7 linked regions of the Homo sapiens genome follow. The protein of the gene in region 2 interacts with the protein of the main gene of each other region in a pairwise test. Each region holds a gene or a part of one and is shown on either strand. Other genes may lie near its edges.

The links.
Region 1: the proteins of TXN2 (region 2) and ZMYND12 interact in binary tests that used the Homo sapiens proteins (3 or more experiments, as listed by UniProt).
Region 3: the proteins of TXN2 (region 2) and SYCE1 interact in binary tests that used the Homo sapiens proteins (3 or more experiments, as listed by UniProt).
Region 4: the proteins of TXN2 (region 2) and MIPOL1 interact in binary tests that used the Homo sapiens proteins (3 or more experiments, as listed by UniProt).
Region 5: the proteins of TXN2 (region 2) and RBM45 interact in binary tests that used the Homo sapiens proteins (3 or more experiments, as listed by UniProt).
Region 6: the proteins of TXN2 (region 2) and TTC32 interact in binary tests that used the Homo sapiens proteins (3 or more experiments, as listed by UniProt).
Region 7: the proteins of TXN2 (region 2) and GPRASP2 interact in binary tests that used the Homo sapiens proteins (3 or more experiments, as listed by UniProt).

What each region holds. Positions count from the first base shown.
Region 1 is NC_000001.11:42,442,523-42,446,022, reverse strand, and holds part of ZMYND12 (zinc finger MYND domain-containing protein 12), read left to right. Parts: intron 1-3,500. UniProt on the Homo sapiens protein: Required for sperm flagellum function and male fertility.
Region 2 is NC_000022.11:36,475,141-36,478,640, reverse strand, and holds part of TXN2 (thioredoxin, mitochondrial precursor), read left to right. Parts: intron 1-1,784; coding exon 1,785-1,908; intron 1,909-3,500.
Region 3 is NC_000010.11:133,555,584-133,559,083, reverse strand, and holds part of SYCE1 (synaptonemal complex central element protein 1), read left to right. Parts: intron 1-132; coding exon 133-207; intron 208-869; coding exon 870-917; intron 918-1,165; coding exon 1,166-1,220; intron 1,221-1,927; coding exon 1,928-2,017; intron 2,018-2,261; coding exon 2,262-2,325; intron 2,326-3,036; coding exon 3,037-3,103; intron 3,104-3,180; coding exon 3,181-3,304; intron 3,305-3,376; coding exon 3,377-3,487; intron 3,488-3,500. UniProt on the Homo sapiens protein: Major component of the transverse central element of synaptonemal complexes (SCS), formed between homologous chromosomes during meiotic prophase. Requires SYCP1 in order to be incorporated into the central element.
Region 4 is NC_000014.9:37,498,437-37,501,936, forward strand, and holds part of MIPOL1 (mirror-image polydactyly gene 1 protein), read left to right. Parts: intron 1-1,471; coding exon 1,472-1,702; intron 1,703-3,500.
Region 5 is NC_000002.12:178,118,937-178,122,436, forward strand, and holds part of RBM45 (RNA-binding protein 45), read left to right. Parts: intron 1-1,350; coding exon 1,351-1,473; intron 1,474-2,237; coding exon of another isoform or gene 2,238-2,243; coding exon 2,244-2,423; intron 2,424-3,500. UniProt on the Homo sapiens protein: RNA-binding protein with binding specificity for poly(C). May play an important role in neural development.
Region 6 is NC_000002.12:19,896,131-19,898,983, reverse strand, and holds the end of TTC32 (tetratricopeptide repeat protein 32), read left to right. Parts: intron 1-948; coding exon 949-1,115; intron 1,116-1,857; coding exon 1,858-1,997; 3' UTR 1,998-2,353; downstream 2,354-2,853.
Region 7 is NC_000023.11:102,715,448-102,718,233, forward strand, and holds the end of GPRASP2 (G-protein coupled receptor-associated sorting protein 2), read left to right. Parts: coding exon 1-1,939; 3' UTR 1,940-2,286; downstream 2,287-2,786. Other genes in the region: ARMCX5-GPRASP2 (G-protein coupled receptor-associated sorting protein 2), read left to right, coding at 1-1,939. UniProt on the Homo sapiens protein: May play a role in regulation of a variety of G-protein coupled receptors.

The sequences.
Region 1 (3,500 bases), on a different chromosome or scaffold from region 2:
CCCAGGTCTGACACCCCATTCCAGACTGTCTTTCCTCCAAAGTAATGAGAAAAGCACTGGACAAGAAAATACAGCCCAGGTTCTGTTTACCTCTGACACTGGCTAGCTATGGGATTCTGGAAAAGTCACCCTAGCCCAAGTCTCATCATCTCTCATCTAGACCACTGCCTACTAACTGGTCTCCCCACATCATCTCTGGCCTCCCTCCAATGTGGTTTGCATACAAAAATGTGACCCATCACTCCTCTAAATAAAGATCAAATTTCTAAAGCAACCCATGAGGCTCTGCTTGATCTAGCCGTTAACAAATTCTCTCACCTCAATTCTATCACCTTGTCTCTCTTGAATTATTTTCTCCCTCCCTTCCAGTTACACCGACCGGCCTTCTCTCAGTTCCTCAGAAGCATGATGATTTCCTTGTTTGGAAAGGCTTTTCTGTAGCCACTCTCTCTGCTTCTCCTCCTCTTCCCTTCACCAAATTAACTCCTTATCATCTTTCAGGTTTCAGCTCAAGGGTTACTACTGCCTTGTCTAGAAGCTTTCCCAGGGCTCCAGACCAGGTTGGGTCTCCCCTTTTTTTTTTTTTTTTTTAGACGGAGTCCCGATCTGTTGTACAGGCTGGAGTGCAATGGCCTGATCTTGGCTCACTGCAACCTCTGCCTCCCAGGGACAAGTGATTCTCCCACCTCAGCCTCCCGAGTAGCTAGGACTACAGGCACGCACCACCACGCCCAGCTATTTTTTGTAGTTTTAGTAGAGATAGGGTTTCAGTATGTTGCCCAGGCTGGTCTTGAACTCCTGGCTTCAAATGATCCACCCACCTCAGTCTTCCAAAGTGCTGGGATTACAGGTGTGAGCCACCGCACCCAGCTGGGTCTCATTTTTAATATACTTGTTTAAAGAACTACCCTTTCTGGCCGGGCACGGTGGCTCACACCTGTAATCCCAGCACTTTGGCAGGCTGAGGTGGGCGGATCACGAGGTCAGGAGATCGAGACCATCCTGGCGAACACGGTGAAACCCTGTCTCTACTAAAAATACAAAAAAATTAGCCGGGCGTGGTGGCGGGTGCCTGTAGTCCCAACTACTCTGGAGGCTGGAGCAGGAGAATGGCATGAACCCGGGGGGCGGAGCTTACAGTGAGAGGAGATCGCACCACTACTGCACTCCAGCCTGGGTGACAGAGCGAGACTCCGTCTCAAAAAAAAAAAAAAAAAAAAGAACTACTCCTTTCTTCTGAGCACTTAGTCCATTAATAATTGTATTCATTGATGAGATTATTTAATTGTCTCCCTGCTCCAGTAGACTGTAAGCTCAGGGGAGAACTGGATCTGTGTCTATTCTTAATTATCACGGATGTCTTCACACTCAGCCCAGTACTTAGCACAGAGAAGGTACTAAAAAGATAATTTCACAGTACCTGAAACCTCGTGAGCACTGTGTAAGTATGTGTTGAATCTGAGTTGTCTTCACAGGATTCTTTTAAGGGTGAAATGAGTTCGAGTGTAATGACCATGAAAGTGCTTTGAAGTCTGGAAAGTACTGTCTAAATGGAAGATTTCACTGTAACTTCACAGTCATTGGTTTAAAACCTTGCTAACGTTTCTGGAAGTCTAAAGAAATCACTTTCCTGTGCACATGTTTCTTTCCCATCTTAGAGATTACTTCAGACTGGAGTGATTTGGAAGCAGGAGAGCCTGAGTTCAAATATCATCTCTTTCTTTACTGTCTGGGTGATCGTAGGCACCAAGCTCTTCCTCACTCAGAGCTCTCACATATATGGTTCCTTCTGCCTGGGATGCTCTTTTCTCTCTCATACGTGGCTGGCTTTTGATCATCCTTCAGGTGTCTGCTTAAACTGGCCAGGCATGGTGACTCCCACCTGTAATTTCAGCACTTCGGGAAGTCGAAATGGGAGGATCTCTTGAGCCCAGGAATTCAAGATCAGCCTGGGCAACCTAGCAAGACCTCATCTCTTAAAACAAAAAAATTAGGCGGTCATGGTGGCATGCACTTATAGTAGTCCCAGCTACTTGGGAGACTGAGGTGGGAGGATTGCTTGAGCCCAGCAGGTGGAGGCTGCAGTGAGCTAGGATTTTGGTTACTGTGTTCTGTTCATTTCCTTCACAGCACTCATGTTTTGTCTATTTATTGTATGCCTACTTCACTTGATTTTAAGCTTCTTGGAGTCAGGGATCATGTCTTAGTGTGCATTGAGCATCATGCATTGTGATAGAGACTCAATCAATTAGGTGAATATATGTTTGGTTGAATGAATGAATGAAGTTGCCTCCTCTTCAAATTCCTCATCTGATGATTATTTCACAGGGTTGTTAGCAGACTTAGACCACCGATGCAAAGGGACTAGCACAATGTTGGGCAAATAACAGGTCTTCAATAAATACAGATTCCCTTTTCTTCCCCTGGGCACCTCACAGCCACAACCTTTGACTCAGCTGTGACTGCTGTATGCTGCATTCCTTCACTTTCATCACCAAGTCCTGCAAAATCTTCTCCCATAATATCTCCCAGATCTGCCGTTAACCCAGTGTAAGCCTGTTGCCTCACCCTTCAGACAAGTACCACTGGTCTGTAAGTGGCTGTCCTTTCCCAATTCCATACACTAGTAAAATCACCCTAAGGGATAGTATCACTTCCTTTATGTCTCCACCACCTCCACTTCACCCTATGCCTCTCCAGGTAGGCACTGTCCATAAGAGGCAGGCCTGAACTTACGCACTCACTGGTCACAAGCTTAGTTCTGACTGTAATCTCATGGGCTAGTAGTAGCCCATTCTTCTCACCGTACTCTCTCTCTCTAGCCTCACAGTTTATTCTCCCAAGTATGCCTTTTCCTTTAGGACTGATGCTTGTTTAGATGCTGGTTCAGCTGGGCCTTGGAGTCTTCATTCTTTGGCATTGCCTCCTTGAGTGAGAACTGGATGTTGAAAATTTTAAATTTCCAATATTTGTCAATGCCCTGTCCCATTTTTTTCCCATCTAAACAATCTTAGTTAAGAGTCATTTGCTTCTTCAAATGTGAGAGGACTTCAGCCTAAACCTCATATTTTATAGACAAAGCCTGGAGGGAAGATGTGACTTGCCATGTTCACATGAGCCAGGATCAGGGACTAGGCCTCGTGCTCCTAATCTAGTAGTTTCCCATTTTAGTTTGCACTTTGACCTTCCATCAGGCAAAGTTACTTCCTTCTTCTTGTAGACTGCTTCCTCTTCATCTCTTTTCCTTTAATTCAGTGATGTAGGGTTACAACTAGAATAAAAGCATGCTTACATATGAACTAGGTCTGACAGGAAGGACACAGAGGAGCAGAGGGTTGGCTTATGAGGGGTTCGTGTCCTTACCTCTTAACCCTTTGTTGATGCCATTTCTGCTGCAGCACCTATCACACCAATGCTTCGCCCCCAGAGCACGCCTCCTACCCTGCAGCACACTGACGTAGTGGCTTTCTATTCTGTTCTGACAAATTTCCCCAGGAGTC
Region 2 (3,500 bases):
GGTGTGCACCACCACACCTGCTACTCAGGAGGCTGAGGCAGGAGAATTGCTTGAACCCGGGAGGCGGAAGTTGCAGTGAGCCGAGATCGCGCCATTGCACTCCAGCCTGGGCAACAGAGTGAGACTCCATCTCAAAAATAAATAAGTAAGTGCTGAGAATAAAATAGGAGTTGTCAGCCAGGGGTTTGTGAAAGGTGGAACTGTCTTGGCCTCCTGGTGTAGTGAGCATTCCAGAGAGGCCTTCCGAAATGAACAATAAATGGGATAATGCCTCATTTTGTTCAGTAAGGAAGTGGGGTGGTGTGAGTTGTTCATTCAGTGCCAGGCACTTTCCTTGGTGCCACATACATAGAGATGACAGCACCAGGCCTGTCCTGGATGAGCTTCCCCAGCGAGAGGGGAATACCTATGATCAGGGCAGTGATAATGGTCAACTCAGGGGCTGTGGGATCAGAGTAGCCTGTGGGTGAAATAAAACACTTTCTCTTTTTTTTTTTTTTTTTTTTTTGAGACAGAGTCTCTGTCGCCCAGGCTGGAGTGCAGTGGCACAATCTCAGCTCACTTCAACCTCTGCCTCCCAGGTTAAAGTGATTCTCCTGCCTCAGCCTTCCTAGAAGCTGGGATTACAGGCGCACACCACCACTCCTGGCTAATCTTTGTATTTTTAGTAGAGACGAGGTTTTACCATGTTGGCCAGGCTGATCTTGAACTCCTGACCTCAGGTGATCCGCCTGCCTCGGCCTCCCAAAGTGCTGGAATTATAGGCGTGGGTCACCGCACCCGGCCAAAGAAAACACTTTCAACACAGCTTTGGGTTGTGATCGATCCCAGCTGTGCTTCTCTAATCTTGCACAGGTTTCTTAACTCGTATGGGCTTCAGTTTCTTTGGAAGGTGTGTTCTCTTTGCAGAGTTGAGGGGTGTGTTTGGTAAAAGCAGAGAAAGTGAGCCAGGGACTGGTGCGTTGTAGACGCTCCAGGCCATTGGTTCCCCTCCTTTTAGTTCTGAGTCCACATGGTGTTTGAAATATCCCCACAGCTTCCAATGCATGTTTACCCACATTGCCTTAGTTGATCTCTCCTAATAGCTTTGAGAGCCATAATCTCTCTTTTTCAGATGAAGAAACTAGGGCCCAGGCCGGGCGCGGTGGCTCATGCCTGTAATCCCAGCACTTTGGGAGGCCGAGACAGGCGGATCACGAGGTCAGGAGATCGAGACCATCCTGGCTAACACGGTGAAACCCCGTCTCTACTAAAAAATACAAAAAATTAGCTGGGCGTGTTGGCAGGCACCTGTAGTCCCAGCTACTGAGGAAGCTGAGGCAGGAGAATGGCGTAAACCAGGGAGGCGGAGCTTGCAGTGAGCCGAGATCGCGCCACTGCACTCCAGCCTGGGGGATAGAGCGAGACTCCGTCTCAAAAAAAGAAAAAAAGGAAACTAGGGCCCCAGAATAATCAGCTGGTTGGTGAGAAGCCTCTGTTTGAACCTTTTAACTTCCAATCCCATATCCTTTTATATGACAGTATATTTATCTGAGATATACTGAAATGAGTCACTTTTATTATGAGTCTTCTGATGAGGCCTGTGTTTTAAAAGTCTGGGATCTGTGAAGATTTCCCATGTGCAGAATCTCCTGGCATTACCATTTGGTGTGTTAATTTTTAAACATGGTAAACAGAGATAATAAGGGCAAAAGATTCCTTGGAAAGATGCAGGTCTGGGAAGCCAGTAGGGGATGCTGAGCGCTCTTTTGACTGACTGGATGCTTCCTTTCTCGCCTTTTGAGGTGGTGTGGACCCTGCAAGATCCTGGGGCCGAGGTTAGAGAAGATGGTGGCCAAGCAGCACGGGAAGGTGGTGATGGCCAAGGTGGATATTGATGACCACACAGACCTCGCCATTGAGTATGAGGTATGGATTGACAGGGAGTTGCCACAGGGAAGCCAGTATAGGAGGTGTCAGGCCCAGGGATAGCTGGTGTAGGAGGTATCTTGGGGAGCACAGGTAGCCAGTAAGCAAGGTGTCTTGGTTTTTCCAGAGCTTTTTTTTTTTGAGACGGAATCTCTCACTGTCACCTGGGCTAGAGTGCAATGGCATGATCTCGGCTCATTGCAACCTCTGCCTCCCGGGTTCACGCGATTCTCCTGCCTCAGCCTCCCAAGTAGCTGGGACTACAGGCGCACACCACCACGCCCAGCTAATTTTTTGTATTTTTAGTAGAGACAGGGTATCACCATGTTGGCCAGACTGGTCTGGAACTCCTGACCTTATGATCCACCCACCTTGGCCTCCCAAAGTGCTGGGATTACAGGCATGAGCCACTGCGCCCAGCCGGTTTTTCGAGAGCTTTTAAGAGCTCAGAGCACTTTGCAGAGGTGGCTCTTGATCCTCTGAGCCACCTGTCTCTCTTCACCACCTTTAGGAAGTAGATCGTATGACCCAAAAACACCAGGTCATTCACTTAGTCTCAGACATTGGTACATTCCTTTATCCATCTACCCACATGTTCAGTGAGCAGTCATTTGGGAGCTCGATGTGCCAAGCATTTGTGATTCTGACACAAGATGAGATCTTGTTTCCAAGCAAGATCTCTCCTAGTCTAGCAGGAGAGAACAGCAGGTAGAAAGATCATCTCAATATAGAAGTGCTAAAAGAAGAGGCGCATAAAGGAAGAAGGGACTGTTTGCTTGTGGGGGAGCTGGAGGGGACAGGGAATGCTTCACGTTAGAGAGAACCTCTGAGCTGAGCCATGAGGGATGCGCAGAGGAGGAGGAAGGGCTGAGGAAACAGCGTGCACAAAGACATGGAGTCGTCTCACTTGGTTGGTTGGTTTGTCTGTTTATTCAGCAGATATTTGAGAGTCCCTCAAGTGCCAGGTAGTGTTACTTGGTGTTGAGGATAAGGCAGTGAACAAAACTGACAAAATCTCTGCCTCCGTGGAGTCTACATTCTAGTATTTTAAATCAAGGGTCAGCAAACTTTTTCTCTAAAGGACTGGTTGGTATTGGAAGCATTGCAGGGCAGTGGTCGCTGCTACAACCATTCAGCTGGGCTCGTAGCCGAAAGCAGCCATAGACACTATACAAACAAATGGGCATGGCTGTGTTACAATAAAACTTTATTTACAAAAACAAGCAGTAGGCTGTATTGGGCCTGTGAACTATAGTTTGCTGACCCCTGTTTTAGATAATAAGTTCAATGGAGAAAAATACATCAGGAAGAGAGGATGGGAGTACTGCGTATGAGGCAGGGTTTTTGTTTTTTCGAGACAGAGTTTTGCTCTTGTTGCCCAAGCTGGAGTGCAGTGGCACAATCTCGGCTCACTGCAACCTCTGCCTCCCGGGTTCAAGCAGTTCTCCTGTCCCAGCCTCCGGAGTAGCTGAGATTACAGGCACGCGCCACCACGCCGGCTAATTTTTTGTATTTTTAGTAGAAATGAGGTTTCACCATGTTAGCCAGGCTGGTCTTGATCTCCTGACCTCGGGTGACCCACCTGCCTTGGC
Region 3 (3,500 bases), on a different chromosome or scaffold from region 2:
GCTGGAAGCCTCGTTTCCTACTCTATAAAATCTAGGCCACTATAGATTTACCTGAAGGCAAATGAGAAATGTCACTGTTGGGAAGAGAATAGAGGCTGCACTCACACAATGTTTTTCTGCTCTTTGGTGAAGCAAAAAAGAAAGCCAATAAAGACCTAGGAGAGGCCCGGACCATCTGTGAGGCCCTGCAGAAGGAACTGGACTCGCGTAAGAGAGCCGGGGGTCACCCAGAGGTCCCCACAGTGTCTTAAGCCTCCCCTAACCCTGTATTCCAGATAATCAGCATCCTTGCCATGGCCAAGGGTCCTGTACCCTCTCTAGCCTCATGTCCTGCCAATCTCCCCCTCTCCTCTCTGCTTGTGGGAGTGTTCAGGAAACACCCTCCAACCTCATTCCCACCTCAGGGCTTTTGCCAGACGCTGTCTGTGCTTCCTCAGATAATACAGGTTCCTCTTTCCTCACATCATCAGCTCTAAGTTAGAATGTCCCCAGACAGGATGACTGGCATTCCCCAATCATCCCATTTAAAGATGGCACCCTGCCTCCATCTGGTCACATGCCCCATCCTATTTGATGTGTTTCTTTATAGCCCTTATCCCACTTCGTGGGTGTTGGTATTTTTTCTCTCCTCCCCATGTAAAAGCACGAGCATCCTCCAGGGCCCTCACAGCCACCCTCTGTAAATGTGAAGGCCCTTTGGTGCTTACAAGGAATGTGGGCACCAGAGGGTAGGGAGGGGCTCACCTCAAGGGTTCACATTTGGGTTGGGGCCAAGGCTGTGCCCAGCTTCCCATGTGACCGTGAGCAAGCCCCATCCCTGAGGGTGCAGTGCATAGTCCCTGATGCCAAAATGTGTCACTGTTTTCTAGTGCATGGAGAGAAAGTACACCTGAAGGAGATCTTGAGCAAAAAACAAGGTATTTGCCGCTCCCCTGTCTCCAGGCTTGTGCCTTTGCCAACCCACAGAAGCCCACTCTCCCTATGGCAGCTGAAGCCTTTTGAAACCTGTCCCAGCTTGCCTCTCTCCTGTGGCTTCCACCAGACATGTAGTAAATGTTAAAGCTCAATCAGGTGTCCACAGACCTGACATGATCTGGCTGTGTTCCCCCTGCCAAAACCCAATACCTTGACAGGTTCTCATAGGGCCCTGTTGCTCTCCCTACAGAGACCCTGAGGATCCTCCGGCTGCATTGCCAGGAAAAGGAAAGTGAGGCACACAGGTAAGAGCTTCCAGCTGAGCCTAACTCTGCACTACCTCTTTATTCTGGTAGAGCAGAAAGAGGCAGGAAGATGAATCTGAGACCCACAGCTCTCATTGTTTCCCTCTAAACAATGGAGAGTCCAAAGAATGTCTTTCCCCTTCGGCTCCAACAGCTGGCAGTAGTGTTAAGGGAAACTCTCTCAATGGCAAGACATTCATTTGCTAAATTGTCAATTAAATTTCTTCAGCTGGTTTTTATTTTTTGCCTTTTACTCTTTGTCATACTCCTTGGATGTCTATTCACTCATCTGTCTGTTCATTTAGGCATTGAGCCAACCATTTGTCCATTCTCTCTCCATTCATCCATTATCTTTTCATCCACCCATCGATTTGTCCATCCATTTCTCCACCTCCTGATTTAGCTCATTTGTTACCAGAGGCCCCAGGCCCTGGCACACTGAGATTTCAGCTCTTTGGGAAAACGAGATGATACTAAGATGTGTGTGCATTTGCTCACTTAACCATGTCCACATTAATCTCTCTTAACCTGACAACAATACTTCCAGGGGGCAAATGGTCATGTCACTCCCTACTTACCACATGTTACAGAGAAGGACCTTAATGTAGAGGGAAAAAATAGCCTCAATAGAGGGAGGCAGAAGCCCCAGCCCAGTGCCCTCCTGGGGCTTAAGAGAACATGGCTGAGGGCTGCCTCGCCTCTCCCAGGAAGCACACCATGTTGCAGGAGTGCAAGGAGAGAATTTCTGCCCTGAACTTGCAGATTGAAGAAGAGAAGAACAAACAGAGACAGCTGAGGTAAACCTTAGCATCTGAGGCAGGGGGTTTGGATGGCCAGTAGTTGGGATATAATGTCAAAGATGGGGGTTAGAAAAGCTGGCTACACTGAGCCATGGAGATTCAAGGTGGTGAAGATGTTCCCAGTGGAGCAGAGACCATGGGCAAAGCACCCCAAAATCTGCCTGAAGAACCACAGACTTGGACAGGCTGTGAAGGTGGTGATTTCAGCCCATATCCCCTCATGCCTGTGGTTGGTTCCCAGGTTGGCATTCGAGGAACAGCTGGAAGATCTGATGGGCCAGCACAAGGACCTCTGGGACTTCCACGTGAGTCCCTCAAAGCCACTCCTCCCCCTTCCACATCTTCCCTAGCAGCACCAGGCCCAAACGGTCACTTCTTCCTCTCACCTGCCACAACCAGTCGCCAAGCAAGCCCTGGTGGTGCTAAGATCGACATTGCCTGAATCCAGTCCCTTGTCACCTCCTTGTGACCCTGCTGCTCAGTGGTCAGGGGGATCTCTGATGAGACCAAGGTCAAGTCTTCCATCACTGTCCGTGGATGTGTCTGGGACCATCACGGGCACAAAGGAGACAACGAGGATAAGCAGCCCGTGTTTGTCCCCCAGGAGGATCCTAGGCACTGAACAAGAAAATAGACAGTGAGTGTCAGGAAGGAAGGGCTCAGTGAGGAGGTCACACCAGGACAGAGGGGAGTGGGGAGGAGCTGCAGAGCTAAACCGGTACCTGATCCTCCAGAAAACAGCCAAGACTCACAGTGCTTGCAGGTTTATCTGTTGTAAATAACAATCCATGAGCATCCCCACTGCAGTACCGCAGAGATGTGGGATGACAGAAGTGCACAGGGAGGGAATGGCCAGTGCCATGGCCCTGAGGCTGTACTGTAGCTGGTGTGCACAGAGGGGCAGAGTTGTTGGAAGTGAGGCATAGTGAGTAAGTATGAAACAAGATCCAGATAGCCTTCTTTGAGGCATGGGGGAAAGCCAAGAGGAGTGGACAGGCCTCTTTTCTGCCCCTCAGATGCCAGAGCGGCTGGCAAAGGAGATTTGTGCCCTGGACAGCAGCAAGGAGCAGCTGCTCAAGGAAGGTGAGACCAGGGAAGGTGGATGGCCCATATCTGACCTCACGTGCCTTCATGTGCTCACCTGCCCCTTTGTGCTGCAGAGAAGCTGGTCAAGGCGACACTGGAAGACGTGAAGCATCAGCTGTGCTCCCTGTGTGGGGCTGAGGGCCCCTCCACCCTTGATGAGGGACTCTTTCTCCGCAGCCAGGAGGCTGCAGCCACAGTGTAAGATGTGGAGGGGAAGAGGGTGGGAGGAGGGAGTGGCCGGTGCTGACCACCCCCTACTGGGCCCCCCAGGCAGCTGTTTCAGGAAGAGCACAGGAAGGCTGAGGAGCTCCTAGCAGCTGCTGCCCAGCGCCACCAGCAGCTGCAGCAGAAGTGCCAACAACAGCAGCAGAAGCGGCAGAGGTGCGTGTGGAGG
Region 4 (3,500 bases), on a different chromosome or scaffold from region 2:
GAGATAAAGAGGGTGAGCTGAAGAAAATTGGAACTTGGAACAGACAAGAATGCAGAAAGTGAGAGGACACAGAAAAAATAGTAAAATGGGCAAGAGACAGCCTTTAAGCATATGGGTTGGTAGAAAAATCTGAGAAGAAATGAAGTAGGGATAGTTAGATTAATAACAATGTGCAAACCATGAAAAAAGGTATTTTTTGCACTCTACAAATGTGGCACTACACACTATTCTAATTTTCTGTGTAGTAACCAGTTGACCAGCGCTTAGTAACAGTCCGTATTCTTAGGGGTTTGAATCCTGAAGTGGTTTCATTTGGTATGCTGACTGTCCTTGTTTCATATCCATCCTAGTTCTATGGGACGCCTTCTCCAAAATAAGCATACTGTAAAGGCTTATAGATAACTTAAACTAAAAGAGGAAATTTATAATTACTTTGAACAGTTTTAAAGAAAGTATCAGGCTAGATATTAGGACAATGCCAAAGTTCACTAACTAGCTTTTTGCAGGTTTAATAATGATATTGCTTTCCTTCCCATTATCAATCTATATTATATAGTTAAGTTGTTTTACTTCAAATGTCTCCAATCGACATTTCCTTTGTATGCATATACTGAAATGATATTTAATAAAAAAGAACATCTCCTGTGTGGAGTTTAAATTTCTCTTATTAAATATTTATATTTTCAAAATGTCTTTATTTAATTGAGTGAGGTGCTTGGTGCCATTTCAAAATAACCTCAGGTGGTAGGTGTAATGACATATCAAAGATTTGACCTTTAGCATTTTAGGATTCTATTTGTCTGCATTTTCTTCTGCATTCATTTAGTCTTAATTTATATGCTATTTCTCTGTATGACTTAATGAGTAGATGTATTCGTTAAGAGATTCATTAGCCAAAAAAAAATATACACATGTATATATGAATACATTTTATTTCTGTGCAATCTGACTAGTGATTTTAAATTCATTTATATCTCAACTGTGACAAGTAGAAGATCAAGTAGAAAATGCTATGTAGAAGGCTGGTCAGTGTTTGCATAAACCTCATCCATTCTCATTAAGTGCTTGGCAGAATAGACCCTCGATCTCCTAAACCAATGCCCATTCTCTTCTCACTTCTTTCAGCTTATTACATTCTTTTATTTGCCTAGAGATACTTTATTTTCCAGTTCTCTGCTATTCCTTTTAAAGAAAATTGAATGTAATATTTACACTGATATAATTAAATTAACATCTTGCAGCATCTTTTTGTATGCTTTGGTAGCATAATCATTTGTCTGGGTAGCTTTCAGCCTAGAAGCAGAGAAATTATCAATTATAATGTTGTGACATAAAAATTATTTTCATTTGCTCATTTAAGTATTTATTGATTTTTAGAACTAGAGATTCTAAATGGAGGTTTTTGTTAAATAGATCATAGATCACTCAGTTTACATTACTTATCTTTAAATTTTTTTTAATATTTTCTCAGTTTACACAAATCTTTATCTCAAGAAGAAAATCTGAAGGATCAGTTTAACTATACCCTTAGTACATATGAAGAAGCTTTAAAAAACAGAGAGAACATTGTTTCCATCACTCAACAACAAAATGAGGAACTGGCTACTCAACTGCAACAAGCTCTGACAGAGCGAGCAAATATGGAATTACAACTTCAACATGCCAGAGAGGCCTCCCAAGTGGCCAATGAAAAAGTTCAAAAGTAAGTTAAATGATCTTGTAATAATACTTCAAACACATGAAACAAAACAAAACACTTTCTTTTGGGAACTAAACAATATGTAGTTATTGATCATGTTAATAGTTTAGAACAAAAGTAGAATTAACCCAGTGAACTTTTTTAGATTGGATACCATATGCCATATTTGGGGTCAAAAAAGTCATTTTCTTGGGAACCATTGTTACCCTGTAGGGCAAACCATTTTTATTTAATAACTGATCATCAGTTCATGGAGGCCATACTATTTAAATCATTTCACAGTCACAAGTTAATAGGCAAAGTTATTAGCAAGGGGAAGAGGCAGTCAAGTTACCACCTGAACTAATTTAGCTTTACAATAATCCTGCTTGAGTTGAGATCATCTGTGACATTGCAACCTGAGACTTGTAGGTGCATAAAAACCAGTAGGGTGAAATTAATTTTCTTGTGTTGTTCTTCTGAAGTATTCAATACTGCTTTTCACAGTGCATAATTATATATGTTTATTTTGAATGATCTTTGCATTTTTATTAGAATTTAAATAAAGCTGCATAATCTGTCAGTCCTTTTGACAGCTAGCAAAATGTTAACAAACAGCTTACCAGGCAAAGAAGTCACTTGTTAATTTAATGGACTTGAACATTGTAGCAGAATTTTCTGAGACACCTTTAATGTAATAGAACCACTGTAATAGAATACATAGAACACATGTAATAGAATATATTTTAACCTTCTTTATGTATTGTTAACAGCACTACAGCATTCACATATCTAGTCACCTTCAATTTCAAAGATATACCTTTTTCCTTAACAATTTTTATGTCAGTTTTACACTGTGAAGCAGTGCTCACATCAAGGTTTCTTACTTCCCACTACTTCTTATTTGAAAATGTCATCTTGACCATTTCCTCAATATCCCTGAAGTTATATTTTGATTAATAGCCAAAGTTATGTAAGTCAGTAGTTTTAAATTAGACCATTTTAAAACAGTTTAGAAATTGTGCATTTTAATCTTTACTAGCCATGTACCTTGAAACTTTTGATTTATGTAGGTATTATATATATTTGTAAGTTTAAAGATGGGGTTTATATTCAGTCAGAAACTATATGCAGTTATTCACAATGTACGTTAATATTCTAAGAACACTATGATGTATAGGTAGATCTCATTTCATTATAAATCACAATCAGTAACTTTTGACAGGATCTGATTTGGCTCTGTTTGCTTAAAGTCTACAAATACATACAAATTTCAAATTTTTCTTTATATATAATCCATTAATTTCTATACATGACCAAAATTCCCTAAAACAGTGGTTCCCACAGACCAATTCTATTTTCAAAAAATCTTCGGATGTGTTATCAACCTTTTATTTTTTAGATCTCATCAACTATCATCATCATTTCATTTAAAAAAACAATTTTTATACACCAAGAAGTAGAAATAATATCATCTCAGATAATGTTTTAAATTAAATAACTTTACTGAATGGCCAAGATAACCAAATAGGAACAGCTCTAGTCTGCAGCTCCCAGTGTTGATCGACACAGAAGATGGGTGATTTCTGTATTTCCACCTGAGATACCTGGTTCATCTCGTTGGGACTGGTTGGACAGTGCATGCAGCCCACCGAGGGTGAGCCAAAGCAGGGCAGGGTGTCACCTCACCTGGGAAGCACAAGGTGTCGGGGGATTTCTTTTTCCTAGCCAAGGGAAGCCGTGACAGACTGTACCTGGAAAATCGGTACACTCCCACCCAAATACTGTGCTTTTCCCACAGTCTTACCAACCTGCAGACCAG
Region 5 (3,500 bases), on a different chromosome or scaffold from region 2:
TGAGTACCTGCAGTATACTGATCAATATGCTAAGTAGAGGGATACAGATGAAGTATATGGCAGCCCTCACATTTAAGGAATTTATAGCTGTATTGGGTAGCCAAGATCTAATAGGCAAAAAATAAAGAATAATGGAAGAACTTTTTTTAAAGGCTCTTTGAAAGCAAGAAGTATGCCTTATTTGTCTGTCACTCCAGGTATCTAGTACAATAATAGGCCCTCAATAAAGATTTATTAAGCTCTCTATAAAAGTAAATGCCATTTATAGTAGACTCAGTAAGAATTTGCCAAATGAAAAAAATGTTCATAAGTGTATGGTAGAGTCTGTCAATGGTGAAAAACAAGTGCTGGATGAGCATGGCAACACATGCCGAGGGGGTAGGACTTGTGTCTGGTGTCGAGGAGGCAGGACAGAAGGTGAGAGCAGTGCTAGCAGAGGCACAATGCCAGGAATAAACATGTGTTTTGCTTGGTGCTGTGAAGGCAGCTGTCTGAGTAAAGCACAGTATTTCTGCTGAGACATTCTGAGACACAGTTAACTAGGTACATTGGAACATGGGAACCATATATTGGAGGTTAGGAAAAGTTCAAGGTTAGTCCGCATTAGGATTCCTTTGTAGATTGTTTAGAAAGACAAAAGTAAGAACAGTTGATCTAACCCCACTGTATTAATGATAGATTTCCAGAGAAGAATTCAAACTGGCTGGTTTTATCCTTTTTTTAAGCCACTGAATAATGTGAAGAAAACTGAACCCTTGAAATATGCCCATGTGCACATAAATGCATAATAAGCATTTTGTTTGAAGTGTCAGAGGGTTTGTGGAATCTTCCCACCTTTTGAAGCTCATCCTTGGACCCCTAGTTAAGAACCCTTGATCCAGAAGCAAAAAAAACAGTTAAAGGGCTCTTGTAATTAATTGAAGAGAATCTAAATTAAAAACAGAGGCAGGGAAGTTAGAGTAAAAGATAGCATATTCCAATTGTGTGCATTTCAAAGGAAGAAACTTGGTGACAGGTTAAATATAAAGAAGCCCTACAGGATTTTAATGTTGAGGAGCTTAGGTGAATGAATGACGATGTTATCTGTAATAGGGGGAGATGGGAAAGGATAGCATAGAATTGCTGATCTTTCATGTCTACATTGACCCGTAATTTGGGATACTTGCTGTTTGTCATTTACTCTTTGCCATCTTCCAGAAAGCAAAGAAGTAGGTCTGGAGGAGATGGCCATTGTATAGATTTTGCTTTGTACAATTATATTTATAAAGCTGAGTCAGGCACTAGCAATCAAGTATATTTGCAGGTATGTTAAATTTGCTGTGAAACTTGAAATTCATGGGGTTTTTTCAGGTTTTAGAGCAATCTTGGCTGAACCTAAAAATAAAGCATCTGAATCCTCTGAACAAGATTATTATAGTAATATGAGGCAAGAAGCTTTGGGACATGAACCTAGAGTAAATATGTTTCCATTTGGTAAGTAGGCAACCTTTACTTTTAATAGTATAATGTAGTATATGCAATCTAATTTGGGTTTTAAAGAATACTCTGTTATTGGGCATCTATAAATTTCACCTAGTGAATAAAAATCTTAAATGTAGTTTTTTTATTCCTAAAATGTGGATTATGACTCCTAAAGTTCTTAATATTTAACACTTATTTTGTTTAACTGATTTCTAATTATAGTTTTCTCTGTTAAGTTACGCATTCCTCATATTAGAAACTATTACCACTGCCACTTTTTTGGGTGAGCTTCTGCCTCTATATAGCTGACCAAAAACTTAAAAAGACATATGTAGAGATCCTCTCCGTATGAGTCCTAAAATTTTGTTCCAGAACTACTGCTACTTTAAAATTAGGGCTACAGAAAGGAGAGGAATGGTAAAAGTAGAAGCTCTAATAGAAAAAGGGGAAAATGGGTAATGAAAGTAAGGCCTGTGAATGTTATTTGACGTAAACATTCAGGTAAAATACTTACCATATTTTTCAGTTTTGCATACTAAACTTCTTTCTGTGAAATTAGACTATGCATTTCTTCTTATATTTCTGCATTAAAGGTAGGGGAGTGGGGAGAGTTGTCTCTTCTTGTCATTAGTCCCATCGGTAGTTCTGATGACCAGAAGCGTACTACAAAATACAGTGCCTTTATTCAGTACAATGGACTCTGTTTTCTAGTATTTAAAATGTTAAGCGAATTGTTGGCTGTGTAGAAATCTAAAGATTTACTTTTTTTTATATTGTCGGAGAACAACAATCTGAATTTTCAAGTTTTGACAAGAATGATAGCCGAGGCCAGGAAGCAATCTCCAAACGCTTGTCAGTTGTATCAAGAGTTCCTTTCACTGAAGAACAGCTTTTCAGCATTTTTGATATAGTACCAGGATTGGAATATTGTGAAGTTCAACGAGATCCTTATTCAAATTATGGTAAAATAATGTTCACATTAAAAAATATATATATATGTATATATACACACACACACACACACACACACACACACACACACACACAGAGTTTTGTTAAAATGGCTTTTCTCTAGTGGCACTTTTATGTCAAGTACTGCTCATGTGACAGGAATTTTATCTTTCCTTTTTCTCTACTTTAGAATTCAAAATATGGTGATACCTTAATAAACAAAGCCCTGGAAATATATCTTCTTTTTACAAAATTGTTCACTGTAAAATATATTTTAACTCCCACAAAATATAACATTCTGTATTCCAGTTGCATAACAAAAAATACCTCTGGATAGAGCCTCTGTTTCTATGTACTCTTTTGGTTAATGCTAGACAAAGTTACGAAACTCACAAAATTTCCTCCTCATTCATCCCTAGATCTCTTTCTCTTAAATTTATACCCCTCCTTCCTTTCATTCCAAGCATCTAAATGCCCTGCTTCTCTCCTGCTTCTTCCAATTCTCAATGGAAGCAAGTCTCCAATATCAGCCATTTGAACTTATTAATTAGTTAATTGATTAAACCCATTATCTAACATTAGCTAACCCATCTTTGTGTTTTAAGCTTTTGATTTTATTAAGGCTCTTTGTTAATGGAGGCATTGTGGCATAATGGGAAAGTCTGGCATTCCATTTTGCATAGAATCGGGTACAAATCCCAGCAGTGACATGTAGCTTTGAGACCTTGGCAACTTGCTTATCCCCTCTGAGCCTCTCTTTCCTCGTATGTAAAATGGGATCATTGATACCTTCTTTGCCAGGGTTAGGTAAGAATTAGAGATAATATATGTAAAATAACTTAATGCAAGTTCTGGCATGTAATAGGGCACTCAGTAAATCTAAGGGGTTTTTTTTTCTTTGTTAGTGAGGGGTGGTAGAGAGAAATCATACTTGGTTGGCATCTCTTCCAGTTTTGTAAGGATACCTGATTTAGTCCTTTTAGAGTGGCATGGCTATTGACATAGAAGTAGTGACGTGAGTTTGGTCATGTGGACCAACAGGACTAAGGTAACTCCACCCTTCATACAGACACCCCCACATACTCACT
Region 6 (2,853 bases), on a different chromosome or scaffold from region 2:
GGTATTACAAAGAAGTGACAGATGAATTCTCTGTTTGGTTCTAATTTGAGAATTGCTTTGGGAAAAAAGAAAGGGAAACAGAATCATCCCTGACTCAGAGCAGAGGCACTAATGTTCTCTGTGCAGACTATTTGTCCTGTGCAGAGAAAGGTTCAAGGCAGCCAGGGGCTGTGACCTGTTGAGCTGGTGGCTGGTCAGAGCTACCTGGCTGTACAGCCCAGGAATGGCTGCTAATTTAAAGCTCTTTGGGCAACCTCTAGTTCCCTCAGGTGCAGAGCCAGTTCTGCACAAAGGACATCAAAATTGACTGGAGCCCTGAGGGGGTCTAAAGGAGCCCACCCTCCTAGCAGGAAGCCAGCCTGGCATTGGGGAGGATGCCAGCTGAGGCTGGAGGGAGGGCAACTCTGTCCCCAGAGATAACTTCCTGGGGATCGTAGCATGTTGAATTTTCACTTAGCGTTAACTTTAGTTTTTTATTGGTGGAAAATGATTTCAAATCTTATTGTTTTAAGATCACTTAAAAATTTGAGAATGAAATTGATTCACATTGTGACATATCCATAGCAAACTCGGGCTTTGGGCTGGCTTTCCCTCTTTGCTTAGTATTTATCTGTTCTGTCTTCTTTGCCCTGCTGGTGTGTGCTTAGAAAAATGAACAATCATTTTAATGTTATATTCAGCAGAACAAATTGGCAGTGAACACACTGTAAAGTTAGTATGCTTTTCAGGTTGACATTGCAGTGGTATAACCCTACAAAAGTAGATAACAGGGTTAAACAAAAATTGATTTTAGCTCTTTATTTGTACGTTTTTTCTTCAGCTTGGATTTTCAGTGTTGATGCTGCATGTTATAGGCTGTGAAGTTTGACAATACCCAAAAGAGAATGAAAGTGGAAATGAGAGGAATTTGGTAACACGGTGTTTTTAATGTGAACTTTTTGTTTAAAGCAAATGCAGCCCTGAGGATTTGGCTACTGCATATAACAACAGGGGGCAAATCAAGTACTTCAGGGTTGATTTTTATGAAGCCATGGATGACTACACATCTGCCATAGAAGTCCAACCCAATTTTGAAGTTCCATATTACAACAGAGGGTTGATACTGTATAGGCTGGGTAAGAATTTTTTTTCTTTTTGAGTTTTGTCATTGACTGTATTCTGTTATTTCAGAGCTTTCAAATGTTGTAAAACTAACGTGGTAATCAAATTTTAAAGTTCTGTGAAATTTAGGTTTAGAGCTTGGAACAAAGGAAGTGTCCCTGAGTTTATTTTAGGCTTTTGATAGGCGTTATAGATCACAGCAGAGCACTGGGGTGGGAATTGGACCTGGGCGCAGGAGCAGGGGTGACCCCATTACTTTGTGCTTGTGCATTCCCAGCTGTGAAATGAGGGCAATTCAGATGTTCACCTGTGAAACTTTTCTGAGTTAAAATCTTTGAAGACACACAAGACAATAGAAAGTGAAGTTTAGATTCTTGGATTAAAGGGACCATAGGTAGTGTTTCTTCATTTAAAGTGTCAAAAAGAAAATTAGTTCCCGTTTCTTAATTTTACTGCAATTATGTAAAACAGGTGATACAGTTTTATTAAAATTTTAAGATGATTGATAATATTTACCTGTTAAATCTCAATAAATAAACCCATAGCTAATTTTAGGTGTATTATTCCCTAAGGGCACACAAAATTACTTTGATATACACATCTCTATATTATTAAGATAAAAAGATTCCTTTACTAGAAGTGACTGAAAGCTCATAAATATAAAAGCAAAAGTACATGTATCAAAGCTTTTCCATGAATAATATATAGAAATACTCGGTTTCTTTTCTCTTTTCCATTTTTTGGGTTCTGGTACAGGATATTTTGATGATGCTTTGGAAGATTTCAAGAAGGTCTTAGACTTAAATCCTGGATTTCAAGATGCTACTTTGAGCTTAAAACAGACTATTCTAGACAAAGAAGAAAAACAAAGAAGAAATGTTGCAAAAAATTATTGATATTTTTAACTTAATGGAAGTATTGATTCATGATCCTTACATCTGCATCTAGTTATCAGTAATTTAGATATTGAGCTATTTTGATTTATATTTAAGAAATTAATACATTAGCACTGAAAGTTAAATAGTGTGTTTAAGGTAGTTAATTTCAGGTTGAATGGGTTTTTTTTAATGAAGTGTAAATAATACCAATGTATAAGTGTATATTATTATATTAAATATTATAGTAAAAAGGAATGTGTGGTATTTTCTTCAGCAAAACTATTTTTGTGATTTTTTTATTCTCAACTTTTTATTTAAAAAATGTTACATCTGCAGAAAAGTTGAAAGTATAATAAACTCTTCAGTTAAATTCATGAGTTGTTAATATTGTGCCACATTTGCTTTTTCTATTTAAATATATAACTTTTTGCTGAAACATTTGAAAATAAGGTGACGAGGTCACAGTACTTCGCCCCTAAATATTTCAGCCTACATTTTCTAAGATTGAGGACATCCTCCTTTATAACCACAATACCATTATAATACCTAATAAAATGAATAATTCTGTAATGTCAGCCATATCCAGCCCATATTCCAAAGTGTGTAGATTTTTATTTGGATCTAGAGCCAATCAGGTTTCAATTGCATTTTTTTTTTTTATGTTTCTCTCAGTTCTTTTAATCTAGTCCCCTGTCCATTTTCTTGCCCTAGCATTGGCTTTGAGAGAAAGGCTATTTTATATAGCTAGGCTAGAGAGACATAACATTTAGGCTTAAAAATAAACATGTCCTACAATTTGAAAGAGTTCAGCTTGAATTACACTTGATTTTCTCAAGTAATCATTGATAAAAATAGGTTAAGATTTAAATATTGA
Region 7 (2,786 bases), on a different chromosome or scaffold from region 2:
GCCCTGGTTTGGACCAGGGGAGGAGACTAATATGGGGTCTTGGTGCTATTCCAGGCCCAGGGCCAGAGAGGAGGCCTCTAATGAGTCTGGGTTCTGGTCAGCAGATGAGACCTCTACAGCGTCTTCTTTCTGGACTGGAGAAGAGACAAGTGTCAGATCATGGCCCAGGGAAGAGTCCAATACCAGGTCCAGGCACAGGGCTAAACATCAGACTAATCCCAGGTCCAGGCCCAGATCCAAGCAAGAAGCCTATGTTGATTCCTGGTCTGGATCTGAGGATGAGGCCAGCAACCCATTCTCCTTCTGGGTTGGAGAAAATACCAATAACTTGTTCAGGCCCAGAGTCAGGGAGGAGGCAAATATCAGGTCCAAGCTCAGGACAAATAGAGAAGATTGTTTTGAATCTGAGTCTGAAGATGAGTTCTATAAGCAGTCCTGGGTTTTGCCTGGAGAAGAGGCCAATAGTAGATTCAGGCACAGAGACAAAGAAGATCCTAATACTGCCTTGAAACTCAGGGCCCAGAAAGATGTTGACAGTGATAGGGTCAAACAAGAACCCAGGTTTGAGGAGGAAGTCATTATTGGGTCCTGGTTCTGGGCAGAAAAAGAGGCCAGTTTGGAGGGTGGAGCTTCAGCAATCTGTGAATCTGAGCCAGGAACTGAGGAGGGGGCCATTGGCGGATCCGCGTACTGGGCTGAGGAAAAGTCCAGTTTGGGGGCTGTGGCCAGAGAAGAGGCCAAGCCGGAGTCTGAAGAAGAGGCCATATTTGGGTCCTGGTTCTGGGACAGAGATGAGGCCTGCTTTGACCTAAATCCCTGTCCTGTGTACAAGGTCAGTGATAGGTTCAGAGATGCAGCTGAGGAGCTTAATGCATCCTCCAGGCCCCAAACCTGGGACGAGGTCACTGTTGAATTCAAACCTGGTCTTTTTCATGGGGTTGGCTTCCGATCCACAAGCCCCTTTGGAATTCCCGAAGAGGCTTCTGAAATGCTTGAGGCAAAGCCCAAGAACCTGGAACTTAGCCCAGAAGGAGAAGAGCAGGAATCTTTGCTTCAGCCTGATCAGCCTAGTCCTGAGTTCACATTTCAGTATGATCCTTCCTACCGGTCAGTCCGGGAAATTCGAGAGCATCTTAGGGCCAGGGAGAGTGCAGAGTCTGAGAGTTGGTCCTGCAGCTGCATACAATGTGAGCTGAAAATTGGTTCTGAAGAGTTTGAAGAATTCCTTTTATTAATGGACAAAATTCGGGATCCTTTTATTCATGAAATATCTAAAATTGCAATGGGTATGAGAAGTGCTTCTCAATTTACCCGAGATTTCATTCGAGATTCAGGTGTTGTCTCACTTATTGAAACCTTGCTTAATTATCCATCCTCTAGAGTTAGGACAAGTTTTTTGGAAAATATGATTCACATGGCTCCACCTTATCCAAATCTAAACATGATTGAGACATTCATATGTCAAGTGTGTGAGGAAACCCTTGCACATAGTGTGGATTCCCTTGAGCAGCTGACTGGAATAAGGATGCTTAGACACCTCACTATGACTATTGACTATCACACACTGATTGCCAACTATATGTCCGGGTTTCTCTCCTTATTAACCACAGCCAATGCGAGAACGAAGTTTCACGTTCTGAAAATGCTATTGAATTTGTCTGAAAATCCTGCTGTGGCAAAAAAACTATTCAGTGCCAAAGCTCTTTCAATATTTGTGGGTCTCTTTAACATAGAAGAGACAAATGATAATATTCAAATTGTTATTAAAATGTTTCAGAATATCAGTAACATTATAAAAAGTGGAAAGATGTCCTTAATTGATGATGATTTCAGTCTTGAGCCGCTTATTTCTGCATTTCGTGAATTTGAGGAGTTAGCTAAGCAACTACAAGCCCAAATAGACAACCAAAATGATCCTGAGGTGGGACAACAAAGTTAATATGATTAACCACCTGCCGCTGATCAGCCTTATGTTCCCAAAGAGCCCTGAGTAGTGCTTTGGTGTTCACAGTCTGTTTTTTTGTTGTAACTTATATTTTTTAATGCTGATGTTAACTTTGTCAAACTCTTGTTTTGAGCTGGATCATTTTGTGGATGCCAAATGAATATCAAAACTGAAAACACATTTGTTGATATTTGTCTTGCTGTCCAGATTGCGGTATTTTTCAGTATTAAGTTTTCAATGAACTGTGTCACCTAAGTAAGCTACCCTGCTATTCGTTGTTTAAATATATGGTTCTCTATTTGAGTCTGTGTTTTCAATAAAGTTCTATGTTAAAATTGGCATAAGTGACCCTTCTTCAGTTTAAGAACCATGTACAGATAAATCGTGTGCACTTACAAACATAGGTAATTATTAGTATGACAAACATGCGCTTATTAGAAAATTCTGTTCTTGAGTTAAGAAGGGAGAGATTATTGTGGGCCCTGATACTTGAGGAATGTTTCCGAGAAGAGGGACCCACTTAAATTGGTCAGGATAGAACAAATTGGTCAGGATAGGAGAGCAAGACAACTTGCCCGCCTGCTTGCCCAATTATGAGCCTTCCCAACAAGCAACCTAAAATTAATACTTCTTATAGGACCCATTTAAATTACCATCTTAGCCCTGGGATTTGCCTAAGGGTAGGATAAGACAAATCATTAGGTTGCTCTTGGAAGTGGGCAGTGGTGGTTTGAAGAAAAGTGTGTAATTGAATAATCTGTTCTAGTAGCATGGATGAACCCAGTCTGCTTGAAACAAGTAAAAGGAGTTTGATGAGAAATGCAGTTAGAAAGTTGGGAAG